Linked DNA regions of Homo sapiens: region 2 is linked to region 1. Evidence: fine-mapped expression QTL. Tissue or cell type: lymphoblastoid cells. Region 1 holds a variant in brackets; the other region holds the start of a gene. All regions are shown on one strand. Distances are from middle to middle.

Region 1 (8,053 bases):
GGGTCGGGCTGAGGCAGGAGAATCAGTTGAACCCAGGAGGCGGAGGTTGCAGTGAGCTGAGGTCGAGCCACTGCACTGTAGCCTGGGGACGGAGTAAAACTCCATCTCAAAAACAAACAAATGAACAAACAAACAAATATCTCAAAAAAACAGCTGGGCATAGTGGTACATGCCTGTAGTCTCAGCTGCAAATAAAAAAGCTTGTGTGTGTGTGTTTAAATCTAGAACTCCAGTTTTTAGTTTGAGATGCAATATGATCCAGGCTTTACTGGTTTTCAACAATATTTAAATATTTAAGTATTGAGACCAAAACCTTAAAATCACTTCCTATTATTATTATTTTTTTGAGACAGGGTCTCATTCTGTTGCCCAGGCTGGACTGCAGTGGTGCAATCTCGGCTCACTGCAGCCTTTGCTTCCCAGGCTCGAGAGATCTTCCCACCTCAGCCTCCCAAGTAGCTGGGGCTACAGGCATGTGCCACCACACCTGGCTAATTTTTGAATTTTTCTTTGGTAGAGATGAAGTTTCACCATGTTACTCAGGCTCATTTCCTATTATTAATATGACCAAGCCAAACTTACTGCTGACTTTCCTTAAACCCTATTATGTAAGCAAATCAAAACCCAATAACTTTAGACTAACAATGAGTTTAGAGTTACGCTTTTAAAATCTGTGAGGCGCCGGGCACGGTTGCTCATGCCTGTAATCCCAGCACTTCGGGAGGCCGAGGCGGGCAGACCAACGCGACCAGCCTGACCAATATGGAGAAACCCCGTCTCTACTAAAAATACAAAATTAGCCGGGCATGGTGGCGCATGCCTGTAATCCCAGCTACTCCAGAGGCTGAGGCAGGAGAGTCGCTTGAACCTGGGAGGCAGAGGTTGAGGTGAGTTGAGATTGCACCATTGCACTCCAGCCTGGGCAACAAGAGGGAAACTCCATCTCAAAATCAATCAATCCATCAATCTGGCTGGGCGCAGTGGCTCATGCCTTAATCCCAGCACTTTGGGAGGCAGAGGTGGGCGATCACCTGAGGTCGGGAGTTGGAGACCAGCCTGACCAATATGGAGAAACCCCGTCTCTACTAAAAATACAAAATTAGCTGGGCGTGGTGGGGCATGCCTGCAATCCCAGCTACTCAGGAGGCTGAAGCAGGAGAATTGTTTGAACCGGGGAGACGGAAGTTGCGGTGAGCCGAGATCCCGCCATTGCACTCCAGCCTGGGCAACAAGAGCAAAACTCCATCTAAAAAAAAAAAAAAAAAAAAAAAAATTGTGAGGCAGGCCAGGCGTGGTAGTTCACACCTGTAATCCTAACACTTTGGGAGGCTGAGGAGGGCAGATCACCTGAGGTCAGGAGTTCGAGACCAGCCTGGCCAACATGGCAAAACCCCATCTCTACTAAAAATACAAGAATTAGTCAGGCGTGGTGGGGGGTGCCTGTAATCCCAGCTACTCGGGAGGCTTAGGCAGGAGAATCTCTTGAACCCGGGAGGTGGAGGTTGCAGCAAGCTGAAATCTCGCTACTGCACTCCAGCCTAGGTGACAGAGCAAGAATCCATCTCAAAAAATAAATAAATAAAATAAAATATGTGAGGCAATTTGTTGTTAGCAAATTTACAATTTGCACTACTCATGTAGGGCAGGTGAGCCCCAGAGCGGGGATTAGCCTGCAGAGGTTCTTGGCTTTGCCCAGGAAAGAATTCAAGGGCAAGCCAGAGGGAGAAGAAAACAGCTTTATTGAAGAAGCAGTGTCACAGCTCTGTGACTGCTCCCGCAGAAAAGAGCTACCCCATAGGCAGAAAGTAGCAGCTCAGGGCAGTTTTGTAGTCATATTTATACCCACTTCTAGTTACATGCAGAGTAAGGGGTGGTTTTTTTGTTTTTGTTTGTTTGTTTGTTTGTTTATTCAGACAGAGTTTTGCTCTTGTCACCCAGGCTGGAGTGCAATGGCAGCACGATCTTGGCTCACTGCAACCTCTGCCTCCGGATTCAAATGATTCTCCTGCCTCAGTCTCCTGAGTAGCTGAGACTACAGGTGCCCACCACCACGCCCAGCTAATTTTTGTATTTTTGGTAGAGATGGGTTTCACCATGTTGGCCAGGCTGGTCTCGAACTCCTGACCTCAGGTGATCCACCCACCTCAGCCTCCCAAAGTGCTGGGATTACAGGCGTGAGCCACCATGCCCGGCTAACGGGTGGTTTATGCAGACATTTCTAGGGAAGGGGTAGTAACTTTTGGGTCCTCTGGTCATTGCCATGGAAAGGGGTGCTAACTCCAGGTGTTGCCATGGCAATGGTAAACTGATATGGCACACTGTTTTATGTGTTTTATGAAAAGCTGCTTCCATCCTATCCCTGTTTTAGTTAGTCCTCAGTTTGGTCCGCTGTCCCAAGCCCCGCTTCTGGCTTCTGGAGTTGAGCCCTGCCTCCTACCTCACTACCATGTTGCAACATTGTCACTTCACAGATTTGCAGTTACAAGGCTGGCCTCTTTAAATACCAAAATTTACTTTGAATTAGCATAAGTTCTGGGCCAGGTCCAGTGGCTCAGGCCTGTAATTCCAGCACTTTGGGAAGCCGAGGCAGGCAGATCACTTGAGGCCAGGAGTTCAAGACCAGCCTGGCCAACATGGTGAAACCGCATCTCTACCAAAAAATAAAATAAAAATTAGCTGGGCATGGTGGTGTGCACCTGCAGTCCTGGCTGCTGGGGAGGCTGAGGTGGGAGGATCGCTTGAGCCTAGAAGGAGGAGGTTGCAATGAGCCAAGATGGTGCCACTACACTCCAGCCTGGGCAACAGAGTGAGATCCTATCTCAAAAAATAAAAATAAAATAAAATGAATAAATTAGCATAAGTTCTGGTCACTTTCTGCCAGGTCCACACTTACTAGAACCTCAACAGTCCAACAGTCCAAAAGGCCATATTCCTCATAAGGCTGTTACCCAGGTCAAGCCATGCTTTTTCATCTACTAGATTATGTTAAATAGAAAATAAGACATTCGAGTAGGAGGGAACAGCCTGATGCACGTGCTATTACAAATGTGTGAGCATATACACCTGAAGGTAGGATCTCAAAGGAGTCCACACAAACGTACATTTATCTAAGCTTCAGATGTTTATATTAACCTTCAATCTCAAAGCCACTTCTAATCTCAAGGCAATGTGGGTTGAAGGCAAGAAGGGATCCCTTTAAATCCCAGTGTAGGGCCAGATGTGGTGGCTCATGCCTGTAATCCCAGCACTTTAGGAGGCCGAGGCAGGCAGGTCACCTGAGCTCAGGAGTTCGAGACCAGCCTGGCCAACGTGGTGAAACCCTGTCTGTACTAAAAATATAAAATTAACGGGGTGTGGGGGCGTGTGCCTGTAATCCCAGCTACTTGGGAGGCTGAGGCAGGAGAATTGCTTGAACCCGGGAGACGGAGTTGCAGTGAGCCAAGATCCGTGCCACTGCACTCCAGACTGGGCAACAAAGGGAGACTCTGTCTCAAAAATAAATAAATAAATAAATAAATAAATAAATAAACTAATTAAATTAAATAAATATATCCCAGTGTACACAGTAATCTGGGACAAGTTAGTAACACCACCACCTTCTTGGGTTCATAACAGGACTAAAGGCGAGGACTTGCACAAGTTAGTCAATATCTGTGGGCATTAACATGGGGCTTCTCCATTTCTGAAGCACGCACCTTCAGTGTCCTTGGCTGCTGTGGGGGTAC[A/G]CCAGGAACTCCCAAATCCCAGGTTAGCTCCAAATATTAAAACCCAAGCAAGGCAGAGGCAGGAGGATTGCATGTGGCCAGGAGTTTGAGACCAGCCTGGACAACACAGCAAGACACCGTCTCTACAAAAAAATTGAAAAATTGGCCAAGTGTGGTGGTATGCACCTGTTGTCCCAGCTACTTGGAAGGCTGAGGTGGGAGGATCGCCTGAGCCCAGGAAGTGAAGGCTGCAGTGAGCCATGATCGCACCACTGCACTACAGCCTGAGCGACAGAGCAAGACCCTATCTCAAAAAACCCAAGTAAACTTGCTTCTTTGTGCAAAGACAAGCTGCCTTTCTTCTCACTGCGGTTTGGCAAATGCTGGGAGAGAGTGATGCCAGAGCCCGGGTGGGAGCTGCAGGATCAGTTCCTGAACACTAGTTTTTAGACAAAAGGGAGTGATTTTCTGCCCTCAAATGAGATGCCAGCTGGAGCACATCATGAGATGTGTGCTGTGTATTTGCTGGTGACTTATTTGACCCTTAGCATCACTGCCAACAGGCATTTACCTCACTTCTACTACTAAAAAAGAGGCAATCAGCCAGGCACGGTAGCTCACGCCTGTAATCCCAGCACTTTGGGAGGCCAAGGCGGGTGGATCACGAGGTCAGGAGTTCAAGACCAGCCTGGCCAAGATGGTAAAACTCCGTCTCTATTAAAAATACAAAAATTAGCCAGGAGAGGTGGTGGGCACCTGTAATACCAGCTACTCAGGAGGCTGAAGCAGGAGAATTGCTTGAACTCAGGAGGCAGAGGTTGCAGTGAGCCGAGATCGCACCACTGCACTCTAGCCTGGGCAACAGAGAGAGACTCCATCTCAACAACAACAACAAAAAAAGAGGCGATCATTTATTATTTTCCTAGACCCTACAGTTTAAAGATCTAAGTACTATATCTGTGATTTTTTATGGAATGTATTTTCCTTACATGTACATGAACAAGCATATAAATTTAAAGTTAATTATATATTCAAGTAAATCAGTAAAATTCAAGATTGCTAGCTGAATTTTTTTTTTTGTCTTATTGACTTATTTTTTTTGAGACCAAGTCTCATGCTGTTGCCCAGGCTAGAGTGCAGTGTCGTGATCTGGGCTCACTGCAACCTCCACCTCTCAGGTTCAAGCGATTCTCGTGCCTCAGCCTCCCAATTAGCTGGGACTACAGGCATGAGCCACCATGCCTAGCTAATTTTTGTACTTTTAGTAGAGATGGGGTATTTCACCATGTTGGCCAGGCTGGTCTCAAACTCCTGACTTCAGGTGATCCACCCACCTCGGCCTCCCAAAGTGCTGGGATTATAGGCGTGAGCCACCTGCCCAGTCTGCTAGCTTAATTATTTTTTTTCAAGATGGAGTCTTGCTTTGTCTCCCTGGCTAGAGTGCAATGGCGCAATCTCGGCTCACTGCAACCTCCACCTTCTGGGTTCAAGCAATTCTCCTGCTTCAGCCTCACAAGTAGCGGGATTACAGGTGCATGCCATCATGCCCAGCTAATTTTTTGTATTTTTAGTAGAGGTGGGGCTTCACCATGTTGGCCAGGCTGGTCTTGAACTCCTGACCTCATGATCCACCTGCCTCAGCATCCCAAAGTGCTGGGATTACAGGTGTGAGCCACTGCACCCAGACCAACTTAATTCTTAAGATAAAATGTATTATAGTATTATGGCTGGGCACAGTGGCTCACACCGAGATCGCGCCACTGCACTCCAGCCTAGGCAATAGAGCCAGACTCCATCTAAAAAAAAAAAAAAAAAAAAAAGAGTATTACAGTATTATGTAAACAACCACTCTAGTGCTATAAGTGTGACCTAAGTACTTAGCACTTTAACAAATTGATGTAAGTACTTAGTACTTTAACAAATTAGATCTGAAGTTGAAACACAGTTGCTGGTTTTCAGAAAACCGTTCTGGATTTAAGGGTTTCTGGATAGGCGACCTCAGAACATGGCACCTTATGTCCATTTTCACGCTGCTGATAAAGACATATCCAAGAGTGGGTAACTTATTATTATTATTATTTTAGACAGAGTTTCACTCTTGTTGCCCAGGCTGGAGTGCAATGGCACCATCTCAGCTCACTGCAACCTCTGCCTCCTAGGTTCAAGTGATTCTCCTGCCTCAGCCTCCCAAAGTAGCTGGGATTACAGGCGCCCGCCACCATGCCCAGCTAATTTCTTTTTGGTATTTTTAGTTGAGACGGGGTTTCACCATGTTGGCCAGGCTGGTCTTGAACTCCTGACCTCAGTTGATCCACCCGCCTCAGCCTCCCAAAGTGCTGGGATTACAGGCGTGAGCCACCGAGCCTGGCAAGAGTGGGTAACTTATAAAGAAAAAGAGGTTTAACTGCCGCAGTTCCACGTGGCTGGGGAAGCCTCAAAATCATGGCAGAAGGCAAAAGGCACGTCTTACATGGTGGCAGGCAAGAGAGAATGAGAGCCAAATGAAAGGGGAAACCCCTTGTAAAACCATCAAATCTCATGAGACATTCACTACCACCAGAACAGTGTGGGGAAAACTACCCCATGATTCAATTACCTCTCCTCAGGTCCCTCCCACAACACATGAGAATTATGGGAACTACAACTCCCATGAGATTTGGGTGGGGACACAGCCAAACCATATCACTTGGCATTTGAGGAAATAACAGTAGCAGGAAGGTCCCCCTCAGACCTTCTTTTGCCCCTCTTCCCTGAAGCAGGCCATAAAAGAATTCTCTGCTCTTCCTCTGAAGAAGATCATAAGACTCTCAAGTGAGAGGTGCTTTTCCCATACCCAGAGGAACACTCTTATCTCTTGGGATATGAAAGAGCAAAATAAATGCCCCTTTATCAACTAAGATGGGCCCTAAGGTTAAGAAAACAAAAATTGGCCGGTGCGGTGCCTCACGCCTGTAATCCCAGCACTTTGGGAGGCCAAGGTGGGCAGATCACGAGGGCAGATGTTCGAGACCAGCCTGGCCAACATGGTGAAACCCCGTTTCTACTAAAAAATACAAAAATTAGCTGGGCGTGGTGGCGGGCGCCTATAGTCCCAGCTACTCGGAGAGGCTGAGGCAGGAAAATGGCGTGAACCCGGTAGGCGGAGCTTGCAGTGAGCCGAGATCGTACTACTGCACTCCAGCCTGGGCAACAGAGCGAGACTCCGTCTCAAAAAAAAAAAAAAAAAAGAAAGAAAGAAAGAAAGAAAAAAAGAAAACAAAAATTGCCCACGGGTCAAGGGTTCAGGGATTGGCCGGCACGGCAACTTCCCAGATTCCTAAAGCTACAAGAAAAACTACACTCGTGGCAGGGCGCGTGGCTCACACCTGTAATCCCAGCACTTTGGGAGGCCAAGGCGGGTGGATCACCTGAGGTCAGGAGTTGGACACCAGCCTGACCAATATAGTGAAACCCCTTCTCTACTAAAAGTACAAAATTAGCCGGACGTGGTGGCTGGCGCACGCGTGTAATCCCAGCTACTTGGAAGGCTGTGGCAGGAGAATCGCTTGAACCGAGGAGGCGGAGGTTGCAGTGAGTTGAGAGTCCGCGCACCGTTGGCACCGCGATGAGGGCGGGAAGCACAGCGCGGGGCCCCCGGGAGCAAGAACGCCGCGGGCACCCAGCCCTCGTGGGAGGCGGCGGTCGGGGCACGCCCCGGGCCGAACCAGGCTCTGCACTCCCGCGGGTGCCCGGACCTGAAGGGTCGTCCGCTGGCTCCAGGATTCTGCATCCCCGACCCGCTCCGGGTGCGCCGAGGCTGCTGGGACTTCGCTGCGGGAGCGCGCCCGGGGCCCCGGGGCCTGCACGGAAGGCGGCTGCGGGGAGGGTGGCCGGGCAGAGGCTTCGGTCCCGGGCGCCCCCTCCCCGGCCGGACCCCCCTCCCCGGCCGGACCCCGAGTCTGCAGTCTCCGCAGGTGTGCCGCGTGCGGGTAGAGACGGACGTGGGGCTGGACGCGGGCACTCAGGGACGGACGGGTGGGGGACCGACGGCCGGGGGAACAGAGGGCGTGGAGAGACGGCCGTGGGGACAGGGGGGCGGGTGGGCGCGGGAAAGGACGGACTGGGGGACTGAAGGACTGGGGTCCCGCGCCCGATGGACGGAGGCGCCAAGGACCAGCGGACTCGGGGGCGACTGGGCGACGGTGGGCGCAGCAGGGCGGAGGCACGGACAGAGGACGTACCTACAGGCCCGGCCCGGCCGCCTTCGCCTGATCCCGAGACCCACGGCGAGCCTCGCGCCGCCGCCGCCTCCCCTCCGCCTTACCTAGGGCCAGCATGTAGCCCTCGAAGTTGTCGCTGCTGAGCAGGGT
Region 2 (8,053 bases), 58 kb after region 1:
CTATCAGGAGTTCAGTTTACAGAGAAGTGAAGTTTGAGACATCTATTATATATCCAAGTGGTGACAATAAGTAGGCAAGTGGAGAACAAAGCCAAGTTCAGGGGAGAGGTACAGACATACAACAGACTAGAGATTTGGATGTATCTGCATATAGATGGTGTATTTGTCTGCTTGGGCTGTCATACTAAAATACCACAGACTGGGTGACTTAAACAACAGAAATTTACTTTGTCACCATTCTGGAGACTAGAAGCCCAAGATCAAGGTTTTGGCCAATTTGGTCTCTGGTGGCAGCTCTGTTCCTGTCTTGTACATGGCCACCTTCTTGCTAGTCCTCACATAATCTTTCTTCAGTATGTAAGGGTAAGGGGCAAGCTCTCCATTCACTCTTCTGATAAGGACACTAGTCCTATCGGATCAGGGCCCCACACTTATGACCTCATTTAACCTTAATTATTTCCTTACTCCAAATACAACCACACCTAGAGTGACATCTTTGATTCTAAAAGTTCATGTTCTCACCCATTATGCAAGACTTACAATGGTACAAGCTATTTAAGGCAGACATTTAAAAGAGGCCCAAGTGTTCAGAGAGCCTTTGGCTCCTGGTACTTCTTGTTAGCCACTCAAGTTTCATCTGTCCCAGCATTTTCCCTACCTAGTTGGAGCAACTTGCGTTCTCTGGGCTCCCATCCCAAGACCAAGCTGAAGTGTCCTCAACTCCTCCCGCTGCCAAGGAGCATTTATCTGGTTTCCCAGTGACTCCCAGTCTGGAGGTTACTTTCCCCAGTGCTGTCTCCCATGGTTTCCTACCTAACATCTTATTTCTCTTTCTCCAGTTTCTTCTCTGCCTTCTGTCTGAAGGCTTGTATTCTATTTTTGTTTCAGAATGCATTTCTCTTATGCATTAGAAATGTTTTCATTATCCATTAACTCTAAACAAGAACCTAAAGGCATATAAAAAAACCCTTAGCATAGAACTGCTGAATGACTAAGTCACAGAGAAGAAAAGGCAAATACCTCCACTGCTTCGAAGACTGCACACGCTAAAACTACACAAATGCCAGAACAGAACATTGGATTATCATTATCAAAATTAGGGGAAGGCTGGGTGGGGTGGCTCATGCCTGTAATTCCGGCACTTTGCGGGGCCAAGGTGGGAGGATTACTTGAGCCCAGGAGTTTGAAACCAGCCTGGGCAACATGACAAAACCTCATCTCTACAAAAAATACAAAAACTAGCCGGATGTGGTGGCATGCACCTGAAGTCCCAGCTACTAGGGAGGCTGAGGTGCAAGGATCACTTGAGCCTGAGAGATTAAGGCTGCAGTGAGCCGTGCTCGTGTCACTGTACTCCAGTCTGGGTGACAGGGCAAACAAAAACAAAAATTAAAAAATCAGGGAAAGTACACTGTGAACAAATGTTTATTCAGCAAATTTTTCAAATTATTATTATTATTTTTTTGAGACCGAGTCTCACCCTGTAGCCCAGGCTGAAGAGCACGATCTCGGCTCACTGCAACCTCCGCCTGCCGGGTTCAAGCAATTCTCCTGCCTCAGCCTCCCGAGTAGCTGGAACTACAGGCATACGCCACCATGCACAGCTAATTTTTTGTATTTTTAGTAGAGACAGGGTTTCACCATAGGGGCCAGGCTGGTCTCAAACTCCTGACCTCGTGATCCGCCCACCTCGGCTTCCCAAAGTCCTGGGATTACAGGTGTGAGCCACTACACCCAGCTCAAATAATTTTTTTAAAGTATATTTTCCAGTTTTGTTTTGTATGGCACTGACTCTGTCACTGTGAATTCCATTTTACCCAAAACATTGACACTTCCACACATATTTATGAATCAAAATTGAAAGATAATTGCATTAATAGGTACTTTTATTTTTTTCTTCTTTTGTTTTGTTTTGTTTTGTTTTTTTAAGACGGAGTTGCTCTGTCACCCAGGCTGCAGTGCAGCGTCGTGATCTTGGCTCACTGCAGCATTCACCTCCTGAGTTCAAGCGATTCTCATGCCTCAGCCTCCTGAGTAGCTAAGATTACAGGCATGGACCACCACGCCTGGTTAATTTTTGTATTTTTAGTAGAGATGGGGTTTCACCATGTTGGCCGGGCTGGTTTTGAATTCCTGACCTTAAGTGATCTGCCCGCCTTGGCCTCCCAAAGTGCTGGGATTACAGGCATGAGCCACTGCACCCGGCCGACTTTTGCAAAGGAAATTCTTTGAATCTGAAGTGTCTTGCAAGGTAGAGGCTATTGCAACCATTTCAACTAGTGTGTCAACAGTCTTCTCTAAGGTGGGCTAGAAAAATGGTTTCATATTCAAATTGTAACTCTGAAAAACAACTGATGGTAATAAAGAGATTCCATAATCAGACAGAACTAAGTGAAACAATTAGTTTTGGTAGAGTTCTGTGGTAATCATAGTTAGAAGTTTATCCTGGGTAGCTGAAATATAACTAACTTCAGACTCCAGGCCTGTCGGTGGCTTGTGCCAATCACCACAACACTTTGAGGGGCCAAGGCCAGAGGATCGCTTGAGCCCAGGAGTTCAAGGCTGCAGTGAGCTATGATCACACCACTGCACTCCAGCCTGGGCAACACAGCTCTTGTTTTTTAACAAGACATTGTTACTTAAAAAAAAACTGCCCTGATGAAACAATTCTACCATGAACACTGATGTTGTTCTGTGGACTACTTCAGGAAGATGGACTAAGAACATCATTAAATAGTTCCAACCAGTTTCTGGGTAATTTTATTTTTAATTTTTTGTTATGAGGGTCTTGCTATGTTGCCCAGCCTGGGCTCAAATGATCCTCCCACCGCGGGCTCTCAAAGTGCTGGGTTTACAGGTGTCACACCGCGACAGCCAAGGGTAACTTTTTTTTATTTTTATTTTTGAGATGGAGTCTCGAACTGTCGCCCCGGCTGGAGTGCAATGGCGCGATCTCGGCTCACTGTAACCTCCGCCTCCAGGATTCAAGCGATTCTCCTGCCTCAGCCTCCCGAGTAGCTGAGATTACAGGCGCCCACCACCACGCCCAGCTAATTTTTTGTATTTTTAGTAGAGACGGGGTTTCACTATGTTGGCCAGGCTGGTCTCGAACTCCTGACCTCGTGATCCGCCTGCCTCGGCCTCCCAAAGTGCTGGGATTACAGGCGTGAGCCACCGCGCCCGTCCAAGGGTAACTTTTTAAGAGCTGCCCTACAGCTCATTACCTCCTTCTCAAGGAGCATGAGTGTCAAACCACCTCCAGCAAAGTAGATGTAGTCTTTTACAGATTTGGAAAGAAGGATTTAGGAGGAAAGGGAAGTCGTTCGGAATGAAGGATTTCCTCCTCTGACGCCCAGCCGTCCCCCGTTAAGCCTAAAGGTGCCAGACCTCAAGACTCTTCTAGAAAGAGATTTTTCCTTTCCAAGGTGAATCCATCTGTTCCGAAGGTCAGAAGCTATTTTACCGAAGTTTTCCGTTCCACTGAAAAAATTAAGGGTCAATCAAAGCTCCTTGCCCCAAACCTGAATATGAGCTTGCCTCGGGTCATATTCGACTCTAAAGACTCCACCACACCATCCTGGACTCCCCTATATCTAGGACAAAAAGCGACCAGTTTCTCAGGGGCTCCTTGCGGGGAGCTTACCGCGCCCTCACTGTCCGCCGGCCCGAGTGCTACCGGAGATCACCAGCGGCCCGGACGCCAGCGAGTGGAACATCTCGGTCGCACTCTCATTGGTTCCAGGGGGCCGGAAGTGCGTGCGTCCAGCGGAAGTGCTCCCCCGGCGCGGTCCGCCAGGCCAGTGCCCTCAGGTAGGCGGGGCCCCTGGCCCTAAACTCTGGGACTGGCGGGCGGTCAGGCGGCACAGGGGGAATCCCGGGGGCCTAAGGAGGTTGTCCCAGTTTTTGTCAGGTAGGCCCGGAAGGAGTTTCGGGGACCATGGGTTTACGGCTACCTCTGGTGGCAATTGGGGCCTGTTGGAGCCCGGCCGCCGCGGGACCTACGTGCCGGACTTCAAGTTCCCGCGTGGGGTGGGATTTGCTGCGGTGGCCGGAGCTGATTCTTCACCCAGTCCTGTTGGTTCTGGGCCAAACCCTCCTCACTTTCAAGGAAGAGGCGTGCTCTCCGCCCTTACCTTTTCCAAGCCTCTGGGTTTGACGCCATCCCTCAAGGCGTGTCCGGATGCGGGATTTTCCTCAAAGACCCTCTCGGCCTCGCTAGGAAGAAACTCAGAAAGGCTGCGGTAGGCGCAGTCGAGGGGGAAAGTGCCCCCGCCCTTGATGTCTCAGGCTGCTCAAGTGGAAGTTATCTGGACTGCCTTAGGGCAAGTTTATATATAGCAAATAAAATTACTTGTTAATGGTTTCCTTTTTTCCAGCATCTCCACCCCGAGGTGGTTTGAACTTTGAGCCTTTTGTAGTCCTGATGAATAATTTCATTTTCCTCAAGTTTATGACACTCGGAACGTCAAGAACTGGAGGTTTGTGCAATTTGAGACCGGTCGGCACTGTGCAGAGATCAGAGTACTAAGAGACAGGTGAGCATGAATGAGGACCCTCCGCTCCAGATATAGTGTCTGAGAGCGGTTTCTGTAGTTTCGTAAAAGTGAAAAGTGCACCACATTTAGTGACTACTAGGTGGTGCCAACGAGTTAATCTTTCGGGGATAAATCTCAACTAATGTAGTACCAGGTTAAGGCTTTTAAAATGCACCCATTTTTACTGAAATGTATTCAGAATAGCTTTAGCTCCTTAAAATATGTTGAGCCTTTATATACGTGACCAAATTATCGACGTTCTATTCTGTATTAGGTACTGAGAAAGCTGAGAGAGGAATCAGACTCATATTCTGTTCTCCAGAGTTTAGTCAGAGGAGATAACGTATTATAATAAAATCATATATAATTAAAGGCAGAAATAAGTGCTAAATAGAGAATAAGATTTGAGCTGGGCGCGGTGACTCACGCCTGTAATCCCATCACTTTGGGAGACTGAGGCAAGTGGATCACCAGAGGTCAGGAGTTCAAGACTCGCCTGGACAACATGGTGAAACCCCATCTCTACTAAAAATACAAAAATTAGCCAGATGTGGTGACGCATGCCTGTAGTCCCAGCTACTGGAGAGGCTGAGGCAGGAGAATTGCTTGAACCCAGGAGGCTGAGGTTGCAGTGAGCCGAGATCGCGCCACTGCACTCCATCCTGGACGACAGAGCGAGACTCCGTCTCAAAAAAAATTTTAAAAAAAAAGATTTGAATGCTAAAGAAGAAGCAATCAATTCTCATTATTCATCTACCAGTTGTTTATTCGGCACTTTTTGTCTGTCCAAGATTGTGCTGGATGCTGGTGTATAAAGAAAAGGTAAAGGCCGGGTGCGGTGGCTCACGCCTGTAATCCCAGCACTTTGGGAGGCCGAGGCAGGCAGATCACGAGGGCAAGAGATCGAGACCATCCTGGCCAATATGGTGAAACCCGTCTCTCCTAAAAATACAAAAATTAGCTGGGCGTGGTAGTGCGTGCCTGTAATCCCAGCTACTTGGGAGGCCGAGGCAGGAGAATCTCTTCAACCTGGGAAGCGGAGGTTGCAGTGAGCCGAGATCGTGCCACTGCACTCCAGCCTGGCGACAGAGTGAGACTCCATCTCAAAAAAAAAAAAAAAAAAGGTAAAGGCTAGGCACGATAGCTTACACCTGTAATCCCAGCATTTTGGGAGGCTGAGGCAGGCGGATCACCTGAGGTCAGGAGTTTGAGACCAGCCTGGCCAACATGGTGAAACCTCATCTCTACTAAAAGTACAAAAATCAGCTGAGCGTGGTGGCGGGCACCTACATTCCCAGCTACTCGGGAGACCGAGGCAGGAGAGTCACTTGAACCCAGGAGGCAGAGGTTGCAGTGAACCAAGATCATGCCACTGCACTCCACCTGGGTGACCGTGAGACGCCATCAAAAAAAAAAGAAAGAGGAAAGAAAGAACGAACGAACGAAAGAAAGAAAAGGTAAAATCCCTACTTAAATAATTCACAACCTAGTGATTGGGAGGAAATCAAGGAAGACCTTGTAGAGAAGGTGACACTTGAACTAGACTTTGAAGAATGAACTGGGCTTCATAGGTAGAAAAAAAAATGCAGGCTCAAAAAAGTGCATGACATTTTTGGAACAGCAAGTCATCCAGTGTGGTTAGACTGTAGGAAACTAACTCTGAAAAGACATTGTCAGTTACATCTTGGGTTTGCCTTGACTTTTACTGGAAAATTCCACAGACTTAAGAGAAAAATTAAAATGGACAATTTCCAGGAAAAATCCACTAAACTATTATACATAAGATGTAGCTACAATAAATTACACTTCTGGGTATAATACTTGTTTATGTTTGCATATCATTAATGATCATAGATGACTTATGCCAATTTTAATAGATTAGGTAGTAATTTTTTGTCATTATATTTAATTTTGAATATACTGTAAGAATCCTCTCCAATGAAGTACACATGTCAAATCATCTGGTAATGATTTCATTATGTGTAGGAAAATAAAACATGCTTTAATGCTGTGTGCGGTGGCTCACGCCTGTAACCCCAGCACTTTGGGAGGCCGAGGCGGGCGGATCACGAGGTCAGGAGATTGAGACCATCCTGGCTAACATGGTGAAACCCTGTCTCTACTAAAAAAAATATACAAAAACTAGGCCGGGTGCAGTGGCTCACGCCTGTAATCCCAGCACTTTGGGAGGCTGAGGTGGGCGGATCACGAGGTCAGGAGATCGAGACCATCCTGGCTAACACGATGAAACCCCGTCTCTACTAAAAAATACAAAAAAAATAAGCTGGGCGTGGTGGCGGGTGCCTATAGTCCTAGCTACTCGGGAGGCTGAGGCAGGAGAATGGTGTGAACCCGGGAGGCGGAGCTTGCAGTGAGCTGAGATTGCTCCACTGCACTCCAGCCTGGGCGACAGAGCAAGACTCTGTCTCAAAACAAACAAAAAACATGTTTTAATAAGTTACCTGGAAAGTTTTGTGGTTTGTTTTTTGTTTTTTGTTTTTTTTTGAGTAGGAGTCTCACTCTGTCTCCCAGGCTGGAGTGCAGTGTCACAATCTCAGCTCACTGCAACCTCTGCCTCCAAGGCTTGGATGATTCTCCCACCTCAGCCCGCCAAGTAGCTGGGACTACAAGCACACACCACCATGCCCAGCTAATATTTTAATTTATTGTAGAGACGGGGTTTCGCCGTGTCGGCCAGGCTGGTCTGTAACTCCTGGTCTCAAGTGATCTGCCTGCCTTAGCCTCCTAAAGTGCTGGGATTACAGGTGTGAGACACCATGCCTGGCCCCAGTCAATAGGATATTTAATGAAACTTGACATACTGATTGTTAAATTCATCTGGAAGAGAAAGTGCACAAGAAGAGCCAAGAATTTTGGGGAGGAGAAAACAATAAAGGCAAGTCATTATCAGTTATCGAGATATATCAGTGATAAAGCCATAATAATGTAAATAGCAAGAAATGTTGCCTGAGGGCTGGACACAGTGGCTCATGCCTGTAATCCCAGCATTTTAGGAGGCCAAGGCCAACATGGCGAAACACTGTCTCTACTAAAAATACCAAAAAAAAAAAAAAAAAAAAAGGCAGATGTGGTGGCACACCTGTAATCCTAGCTACTCAGGAGGCTGAGGCAGGAGAATCACTTGAGCCCAGGATGTGGAGGTTGCAGTGAGCTGAGATCACATCACTGCACTCCAGCCTACTGCACTCCAGCCTGGGTGACAGAGCGATACTCTGTGTCAAAAAAAAAAGAAAAAAAAAAAAGCCAAGTGGGGTGCCTCATGCCTGTAATCCTAGCACTTTGGGAGGCTGGGGTGAGTGGATCATTTGAGGTCAGGAGTTCAAGACCGACCTGGCCAATATGGCAAAACCACATTTCTACTAAAAATACAAAAATTAGCCGGACGTGGTGGCACGCACTCAAGAGGCTGAGGCAGGAGAATTGCTGAAACCCAGGAGGTGGAGGTTGCAGTGAGCCGAAATCGTGCCACCGCACTCCAGTCGGGGCGACAGAGCAAG

Evidence for each region. PIP is the estimated chance that this variant, and not a neighbour inherited with it, causes the effect.
Region 2: it holds the start of LZIC, and the variant in region 1 is fine-mapped to the expression of LZIC in lymphoblastoid cells (GTEx, PIP 0.93).

What each region holds. Positions count from the first base shown.
Region 1 is chr1:9,997,286-10,005,338 of GRCh38, reverse strand. RBP7 (retinol binding protein 7) reads right to left here. Exons shown (of 4, transcript NM_052960.3): 1 at 8,008-8,053. It overlaps LOC124903840 (basic salivary proline-rich protein 2-like), which reads left to right and starts at 7,250. Exons shown (of 2, transcript XM_047436754.1): 1 at 7,250-7,657. The coding sequence starts at 7,309. RefSeq lists a silencer at 6,162-6,362. The variant A/G (reference allele first, on the strand shown) is at 3,726.
Region 2 is chr1:9,939,106-9,947,158 of GRCh38, reverse strand. LZIC (leucine zipper and CTNNBIP1 domain containing) reads left to right here and starts at 3,768. Exons shown (of 8, transcript NM_032368.5): 1 at 3,768-3,910; 2 at 4,377-4,535. NMNAT1 (nicotinamide nucleotide adenylyltransferase 1) reads right to left here and starts at 3,684. Exons shown (of 5, transcript NM_022787.4): 1 at 3,644-3,684. RefSeq lists enhancers at 3,599-4,168, 3,436-4,635, 4,169-4,739, 7,334-7,834, 7,835-8,053.